Regions from separate parts of the Homo sapiens genome. Here region 1 is linked to region 2. The links come from fine-mapping of genetic effects on gene expression. A gene starts in region 2. The other region holds a variant in brackets. All regions are shown on one strand. Distances are from middle to middle.

Region 1 (4,397 bases), 26 kb after region 2:
GTGTGTGTGTATATATATATATATATATATATATATATTCCTCCATTTCTCTTCCTTGATATGTATGAAAGAATTGGCTTTTTAATTCACTGCTGGATATCCAGTGCCTAAACAAATGCCATGTACATCATATGCAATAATTCTATTTTTAATGAATAAGTAAAAAAAGGGATTGGTAATCCTACTAGATTGTGTACCAGTCAGATTACCTTTGAAGTATTTTGGTCAGGCCAGGTCCTACTTAGAGAGGAATATATCCTTGATAAATATGAACAGTATATATATAGAGGAATATATATATATATTCCCTTGACCATTTTAAGGAGAAAACACTTATTGGGATGTAGAGGTGATGCAAGTGTCTGATGGGTAAAAAGATTCTGAAGGTTTCTTTCAATCTGGAGGTCTTATGATTCAGTAAATATATTAACATGGTTTTTATGGTTTTTATTTTGATAATTTTCCTACTGGTTCATCACCAGAGAAGGGGCCAACATAGGGACAAAGAAGAATATCGTGATCTAATATAAAATAATACACATTTTGAGGGTAGCCAAAAGTTTTGCTTACCAGAAATGGTATCTTCCATTCATTTCCTAGAAAGCTAGAAAATTTACCATTCAAAATTAATTGCTTTAGGTTGAAATTGACAGTAAACCTTCTATTTATTCAGGGCAATGCTCAATAGAAAAAAATATAAATATAGGGTAACATCAAGTAAGAAAACAATCTAATTTTAGAAAAAAAAACTTAGAGAAACTATCCTAAATCAATATAGCTTAATATTATTGAGTTCATGGAACATAAATAAAATAAATGTTAAGGAATATATTAATAACCTGGTATGATCAGTAAGCTCCTTCCTTTCTCCCATCTTTTATCTTACTGTTTCTTCTTTCTATTTCTATCGCTTCTCTCCTCTTTCTTTTCCATTCTTCAGTAAGTACCCATTTATCACTGGCTACTATAAGCTCTGGGAATACAATGATTAACAAATAGAGACATGGTTCCTTTATACTTGGACCTAGCAGGAGCCAGTTAACAAAAGGAAGAAAAAAAGACTTTCAAGACCAAGAAAGGAAGGGGGAGTAGAAAAGCAATGAACAGAAGGAAAATGGGCAACATCGTTTGCTTATTTTTTTTCTACCTTCATCCCACTCCATTCCTTGTATAGTTTTTCTTGCTGGGTGCCATCTTCTTTCAACTTCTGATAAAACCCACTGTAAGGCAATACTCATCCAAGTGTTCTTCTGATTGGATAGCAAGTTCATTTATTTAATTATTTTCAATAAATTATTTTTAAATATGATCTTTTTCCCCAGGAAAAGAGGAAGACAGTAACTTGACAGTGGAGAAACCTGGAAGCCATTGCCTTAACCGAGTCATGAAGGTTAGTGTTATCGGTGATGTCCTCAGGGTATCATGTCATCTGCCAGATTTCTATTCTTTCCCTGGGCAGTTAATGATGAGCTAACTATCTTAGAAGTCAAAGGAAATTTTTGTTTATGAAGAGACTTTGAGAAGTCTTGGGGCTCTCTTGAGTGCTACTCGCTTTCCCCTGAAATCCATTCCTATCCCATCCCTGCCCTCTGCTGGGTCTGCTCTCCGTCACTTCGACCTTATTTAGGGTTTGGCTTACTGGTTGGGGCCACTTCCATCACCACCATGTTTAACACAAGTTGCTTGATTGCTTTCATTTAAATTATGGAGTATTTCAAACTGCACAAAAATGCCAAAAATAGTATGACAATGTAAAACATACTCCATCCCTGATTTAAAACGCTGTAACATTTTGCCGTATTTGCTTTGCCCCCTTACCCTCAACTTTTAAAAAAGATATAGAAGTCCCACATCTACATCCCATTTCTCACCTGTCTCTTTGAGGACTACAGGCTATATACCTGGAGTTGAAATTGACTATACCCATCTTCAACTTTTCTAGATATTGCTGAATTGTTCTTTAAAGTTAGTTTATATTAATTGGGGTTCTCCAGAGAAACAGAATCAAGAGGATAGAGATATAGAGATATGGGTATGGATATGTATATAGATGTAAATCAGATATAGATTTATTTTATAGAATTGGCTAACATGATTGTGGGCATGGTGGGGTGGGCCAGCAGGCTGGAGATTCAGGTAAGAGTTGTTGTTGTAGTCTTGAGTTTGAAACCTGCAGGGCGGTCCAGCAAATGGGAAACTCAGGCAGAGCTTTGATGTTGGAGTCTTGAGGCAAAATTATTCTTTATTGAGTC[T/A]TTTCTCCTAAGCCCTTCAACTGATTGGAAGAGGCCCACCCACATTATGGAGGGTAATTGACTTTACTCAATATCTATTGATTTAAATGTTAATCACATCTAAAAAAATACATTTGCAATAACATTTAGACTCATATTTGACCAAACAACTGGGCACCTCAGCCTAACGAAGCCGACACATAAAATTACCTATAATGGCTGGCACAATGGCTCATGCCTGTAATCCCAGCATTTTGGGAGGCTGAGGCGAGTGGATCTCTTGAGGTCAGGAGTTTGAGACCAGCCTTGCTGACATGGCAAAAACTCATCTCTACCAAAATTCCAAAAATTAGCCAGGTGTAGTGGTGGGCACCTATAATCCCAGCTTCTCGGGAGGTTGAGGCAGGAGAATCACTTGAACCTGGGAGGCGGGGGTTGCAGTGAACCGATATCATGCCACTGCACTCCAGCCTGGGTGACAGAGCGAGACTCCATCTCAAAAAAAAAATTAACTGTCATAGGGTTGTACCAGTTTATACTCCCACCAGCACCTTTGAGAGTTCTTGTTGTTTGATACCCTTACCAGTCCTTGGTACTTACAAATGTTTTAATTTTGCCAATCTGCTTAGTGTGAATTGGTATCTTGTTGTAATTTGGATTTTTTTATTTTCCTGACTACTAGAAAATTGAGTATTGTTGTGTTTGTTTATCGGTCTGAGTTTTCTCTTCAGTTGATTGCCTATTCAAATATTGCTCATTTTTATATTGGGTTCTTTGAATTTTTCTCATTGACCTATAAGACTTTATAATTCTGGATAAAAATACCTTGTAGATTATTATAACTTTCTTTTCCTAGACTAATGGTTCTCAACATTGGCTGTACATTGGACTCACTTGGGGAGCTTTTAAAACTCTAGGTACCTTGGCTGTACCTTCAACCAATTAAAACCAGAATTTGGGGAGGTGTAACCTAGGATCAGTACTTTTCAAAGCTCCTCAGGTGCTACCTGTGTGCTTCTGAGAAACACTGTCCCAGACTAAGGCAGTAGGGTCTCTGCCATACAGAAAGTTTTAATTTTAATGTTTTTGATGCCTTAATTTTCTTTTATAGTTTCTACTTTTTGTTTTCTTTAAATTTTTCTATACCTGATGTCATTAAAATATTTTACTATATATTCTTCTCCCTATCTCTTTTGTGTATTAAAATTCTTACAGTGTTGTGACAAGGATTTTTCTACACAGATGACTAAAAACTCTTGTTTTGACAGATTGACAACCTCCTTTTTTTTTCAATTTGTCATTGCAGAACTAAGAAAAGGTAATTTTAGTAAAAGTTGTGCAAAATACTTATTTTTATGATGTGGCTATAAGTGAGAAGGAACCGTTGATTTTAATCATTGCATTCCAATTTTAGAGCTTCATTTTCTTTTGTATTAATATCCAAACTTTTGAAGGGTGGTGGTTGGATGATGTGCTCTAATTCAGCTTCAGTAAGAGTTATTAATCATATGTGTGGTTCCAGTGGAAGTATTTTAATTACCATTGACTAAACTGAGGATGAAAAGCTACTGACAAAAACAGAAAGTTAAACTACTTCAGTGAAGTGACTAATTATTGCTGGCTCTAACTGTGGACACAAGTAGGATTATTGTAAAGTAGGGAGATGGTGGATCTGAAGAAGCCTAGGATGAGGTAGCACTAGATAGATCTTATTTGTGGAGCATTGTTGAGTGTGCACTTGCATCTTTCTTTGTGACTAGAACCAGAAAAAGTAAATACATCTGTGATGGTTAATATCGAGTGTCAACTTGATTGGATTGAAGGATGCAAACTATTGTTCCTGGGTGTGTCTGTGAGGGTGTTGCCAAAGGAGATTAACTTTTGAGTTATTGGACTGGGAAAGGCAGACCCACCCTCAATCTGGGTGGGCTCCATCTATCAGCAGCCAGTGCAGCCAGAGAAACATGGAAAGACTAGATCTAGCTTAGTCCTCCAGCCTGCATCTTTCTCCCATGCTGGATGCTTCCTGCCCTCAAACATTGTCTTCAGCTTTGGGACTCGGACTGGCTTCCTTGCTCCTCAGCTTGCAGACGGCCTATTGTGGGACCTCACCTTGTGATTGTGTGAGTTCATACTCCTTAATAAACTCCCCTTTAAATATACATC
Region 2 (4,397 bases):
TGCAGTGAGCTATGATTAGGCCACTGCACTCCAGCCTGGGCAACAGAGCAAGACCTTGTCTCTTATAAATAAATAAATAAATGAGTCCCTGTCAAGAAGTTGGAGATGGGGAGGGGAACTCCTCACATACAAATAATTATATTGCATGCTGCACTGTAGTAAAAGGAGATATACTAGGCACAAGGGTACCAAAGCAATCCAGGGGAAAAAGGAAAGGTTGCCTGAAATAAGTAATACCTCAGTTTTAAAGGATAAGAGTTTATTTCCAGAGCGGGAAAAAATGCTGTTCCAGGCAAGGCTAGCTACTTATGTAAAAGGAGGGAAGAGTGATGCAACAAGGTGGTTTTGGGGACATACAATTCAGCATTGTCAGTCAAAGCCCCAAATATAAAACTACAGAAGGAAGCAGAGGGCAGATCACGCTTGACAGTATTTAACTGGGGAAGCTAGGGCTAGGTCCTATCTGACTTTGTCAGTAGCACCGCCTCTTACTTACAGCAATTACTTAATGTCTATTTATTCAGCAAACCATTAACATCTCCAGTGATTTCGGTTTTTGCCCTCTTCTGCTCACTCACCAGTCAAACAAAGAAGAGAACTAAGAAACTTGGCTACTAACCCCCTCTAACATGAGCATATTCGGAGTGATCTTGATATGGCGATTACTCCAATAACCTAATGGGTCTCCAGTTTTCATTCTCCAATTTGTTATCCACCACAGTAACTATGATTTTTTAAAGTGCACATCAGATTGTCATATTTCTGCTTAAAATGATCCAATGGCTTCCAACCGAATCATTTTAAATTGATTTGGAGTACAATCAAAACCTCCCAATACAGCCTAAGAGGTCCTGCCCAACGCCTGCTCCTCCGATACCATCTCTTAACCACTATTCGCGCAAGTGGCTATACCTTTCTGTCAATTTCTCCAAATGACCAAGCTTTCTTTCCGGCCGCAGGTCTTATGCTCCTATTCCCTGTGCTCGGTACACTCCTCCTCCTGCTCTTTAAAGGGTCGTATTTCATGACACTTAGGCTTCGAGTTAAATTCCACCTCCTAGGGAGGCCATCTCTGACTAAGCCTCTAATGTCTAACGCGCACCCTCACAGCCTCCTGTCTGCATTGTTCTTAGCACTTATTATTTGCAATTACATACTTGTTATTTTTTGACTAATGTCTGTCTTCCCCACCCAAGTGAGTTAATCTAGAGCATGGCCGTATCATTACTTTCACGGAATGAAAGTGAATTCTGGAGTGTGGTTAAGTGGGAAGTGCAAATTCTCTTTGACTTTTACCCCGACCCTATAGCCCCAACTAAGAATACCCCAGGCCCGGATTCAAACAAAGAGAAGAAGGCACGGGCACTCCTAGGAAAAGAAAGGCATCGGGAGGAGCACGCGCCTCAGAAACCTAAAAGCAGAGTGAAAGGAGCTGGCGACAGGGTGCGCGGCGCCTCACGCGGATGAATGGGAAACGCGCGAAGGAACCAGCAGGCCCCGCGAGGCTGGTCTCCCTCCTTCTCTTTCTCCCCGCTTCTCCCGCCGTTCTCTTTCTCCTTACCATCGTAACCACGGCCGAATGTTGCAGGCTACTCTCTGCCGACCAGGCCGCCGCCCGTCCCTCGTGACTACAGCAGGTACCGCAGGTCCCGAGCCGCAGTTTCAAGAGAAATGGCCGCCAAACAGGACTATGACCTTTCACCTCCCACCACGGCCCTTCCTGCCTCTGTGATTGGACGCAAAGAGGTGCGTGCTGATTGGAGGAGATGGCTGGCCCAGTATCTCCTAGCAACCAGCAGCGGCTTGGGTTTGCGCCTTGCAGGCGGCGCGCGGACCTTGGGAAACCGGCTCTGAGCATCGCTGTGAGGCAGCCAAGGACTGGAGGCAGGCCGGTGTTTTTAAATGTGGTGTCCTTCCTAGAGGGCGGTCTGGGAGAGGCTGTGTAACGGATGTGACTTCTCCCCAACTTGGCTAATGGGGATTTACTTTGTCTTTTTACACCCGTGAGAATGTTCGGGGTCCCAGAGTTCCTTCCTCACTCTTCCAACAGGTTCCATGATTTGGGGGCGCCTCTGCCGCAGGCCCTTTCTACCTGAGTGTTCTCTCTTCTGCAACACCCGTTTTAACCCCTTTTAAAGGAATTGGGGGCTAGCCAGACTAGACTAGGGGCGGCGAAACGCACTGAAGAGAGTTGGATACAGAATTTCTTGCAAACGAGGTCGAGTTGCGTCTGGGATACGGTGTCATGCCCCACCCCCGCCCCACGACCCTGCCGGCCCCACCTTTCTTTTGCTTCGCCTGCAGAAACCCGCACGGCCTTCATACGTGCATTTGAAATTACCTAAGGGCGTAAGCAATATTTCCTCTGTCACGGATTAAAACTTTCGATGTAACGGTGTTATCTGAATCTCACTAGTTTTTGTCGTAATCCTATTGAGTTCGGGTCACTCTGATCTGAAATGCTAAATGCAGTTCTTGGAGAACACGCCCTTTGGGAAGTAACGCTTTTTTGCGGCCCTGAAGAGATGGATTTGGAGTTGAGGATGAAATGTTGGGTGTTGAGGCATTGTGGAGCAGTGGGCAAGACTTTGGAGGGGGCCTGCATTCGGAACCTGCGTCTATCAGGCGCGGCCGGTGTTGGGCAGTGTCTTAACCCCGAGGGCCATTGTTTCCTCGGCAGGAACGCGGCTTTAAAAACGGAACCATCCTCAGGGTGGTTGCGAGAATTTAACGTAAAACGGGGCTTGGCCTTGTAAAAGCTCAGTGTTTCACGTAAATGTTGAACACTGACCAGACAATGATTGTCAGTGTAGTTTTTACCAAACAGTTATTAGATTTATTCACCCTAAACTTCAGTGGATTTCTCCGTTTGTCTATTGTTTTATGAACTTTAAGTCTTTGTATAGACTTTGAGTTCCTACTATGTGTCAGGCTTTTTCAACAATCGTGGAAATCTTACCTTACTGTCTGATTCGGGGTGACAGCCCCGTTTAAGAGATGAGGAAGTAGGCCCAGCAGGTAACTGTTACCAGTTGAGGGTAGCTGTCCGAGTTCTTGGCGTTTTCAACAAAGAATTGGACAAAACGCACAAACAAAGCAGGGCAGCGAAAGCAGAGATTTATTTTAAATGAAAGTACACTCTACAGGGTGGGCACCGCCTGGTGCAAGCGGCTCAAGAGCATTGGTTATAGAATTTTCTGGGCTTTAAATACCCTCTAGAGGTTGCCCATTGGCCCACAACCAGTCTGATTGGTTGCGGGAGGGGACCAATAAGAGGTACTTTCATTTTTCAACTGCCACGCAGAAAAAGGAGGGGTTGAAATGGGAGTAGCCTCTGATACCCAGTCAGCATGGATGGGCCCTAGGTTCCCTGCTTCCAGCCGCTATTCTTCTGCCTCATAGCTTGCTCAGGACCACATACCTGGGTTTCAAAACTCTGCTTTTTCTACTTCATGAAGCTACCTTTCAAAGACTCAATATGTGTTTTAGAAGCCTGACTCTTTAGCTGTTTTCTCAGTGAAGTGAAACGAAATACTACAGTAAACACATTCTGTAAAGATAGTGTATTTAAGGTTGGTTTTTCTTTTCATGTTAAATTTTTTTTTTAATTTGAGACAGGGTCTCATTCTGTCACCCAGGCTGGATTGTAGAGGTGAGATCTTGGCTTACTGCAGCCTTGACCTCTTGGGCTCAAGAGATCCTCCCACTTCAGCCTCCCGAGTAGCTGGGACCACAGGCATGTGCCACCACACCCAGCTAATTTTTTAATTTTTTTTGTAGAGATAGGGTCTCGCTGTGTTGTCCAGGCTGGTCTCAAACTCTTGGGCTCCAGCTGTGTACCCACCTTGGCCTCCCAAAGTGCTGGGATTACAGGCGTGAACCACCATTCCTGGTCCATATTAAATTTTAATCTTAAATACCTTATTAAAATTAAGTGGGCATAAGTCACTGATATTTGTCTAATTATAAATATTATACAAAATTTTGGAAAATGTAGAAAGTTCTAAACAATAAACCTAAAATCACTAGTAATCCCACCAATCAAAGAGAACAACAATTAACTTTTACTGTAACATATGCACTTTTTTTTTTACAAGATATCTACAGTTTTTTGTTGCTGTTGTTTGTTTTTTCTTTTTTGTTGTTGTTTTGGAGACAGAGTGTCACTCCGTCACCCAGGCTGGAGTTAAGTGGTGCGATCTCAGCTCACTGCACCCTCCGCTTCCCAGATTCAAGCAATTCTCATGTCTCAGCCTCCTGAGTAGCTGGGCTTACAGGCATGCAGCATCACGTCCAGCTAATCTTTTGCTAATTTTTTTTTAATTTTTAGTAGGGATGGGGTCTTACCACTTTGCCCAGGCTGATCTTGAACTGCTGAGCTCAGGCAGTCTGCCCAC

What was found. PIP is the estimated chance that this variant, and not a neighbour inherited with it, causes the effect. A credible set is the group of variants that fine-mapping cannot tell apart.
Region 1: its variant is the best candidate, but not a certain one, in a credible set for the expression of SNRPF in putamen (GTEx, PIP 0.63).

Annotation. Positions count from the first base shown.
Region 1 is chr12:95,830,010-95,834,406 of GRCh38, reverse strand. SNRPF-DT (SNRPF divergent transcript) reads left to right here. Exons shown (of 3, transcript NR_135014.1): 2 at 1,323-1,390. Among named protein-coding and RNA genes, the nearest start is that of SNRPF-DT, 27 kb to the left of the region's middle. The variant T/A (reference allele first, on the strand shown) is at 2,253.
Region 2 is chr12:95,856,241-95,860,637 of GRCh38, reverse strand. SNRPF (small nuclear ribonucleoprotein polypeptide F) reads right to left here and starts at 1,686. Exons shown (of 4, transcript NM_003095.5): 1 at 1,562-1,686. The coding sequence starts at 1,564. It overlaps SNRPF-DT (SNRPF divergent transcript), which reads left to right and starts at 1,799. Exons shown (of 3, transcript NR_135014.1): 1 at 1,799-1,884. RefSeq lists enhancers at 1,364-1,413, 1,444-1,673, 1,794-1,853, 1,904-1,963, 1,362-1,977 and 1 more.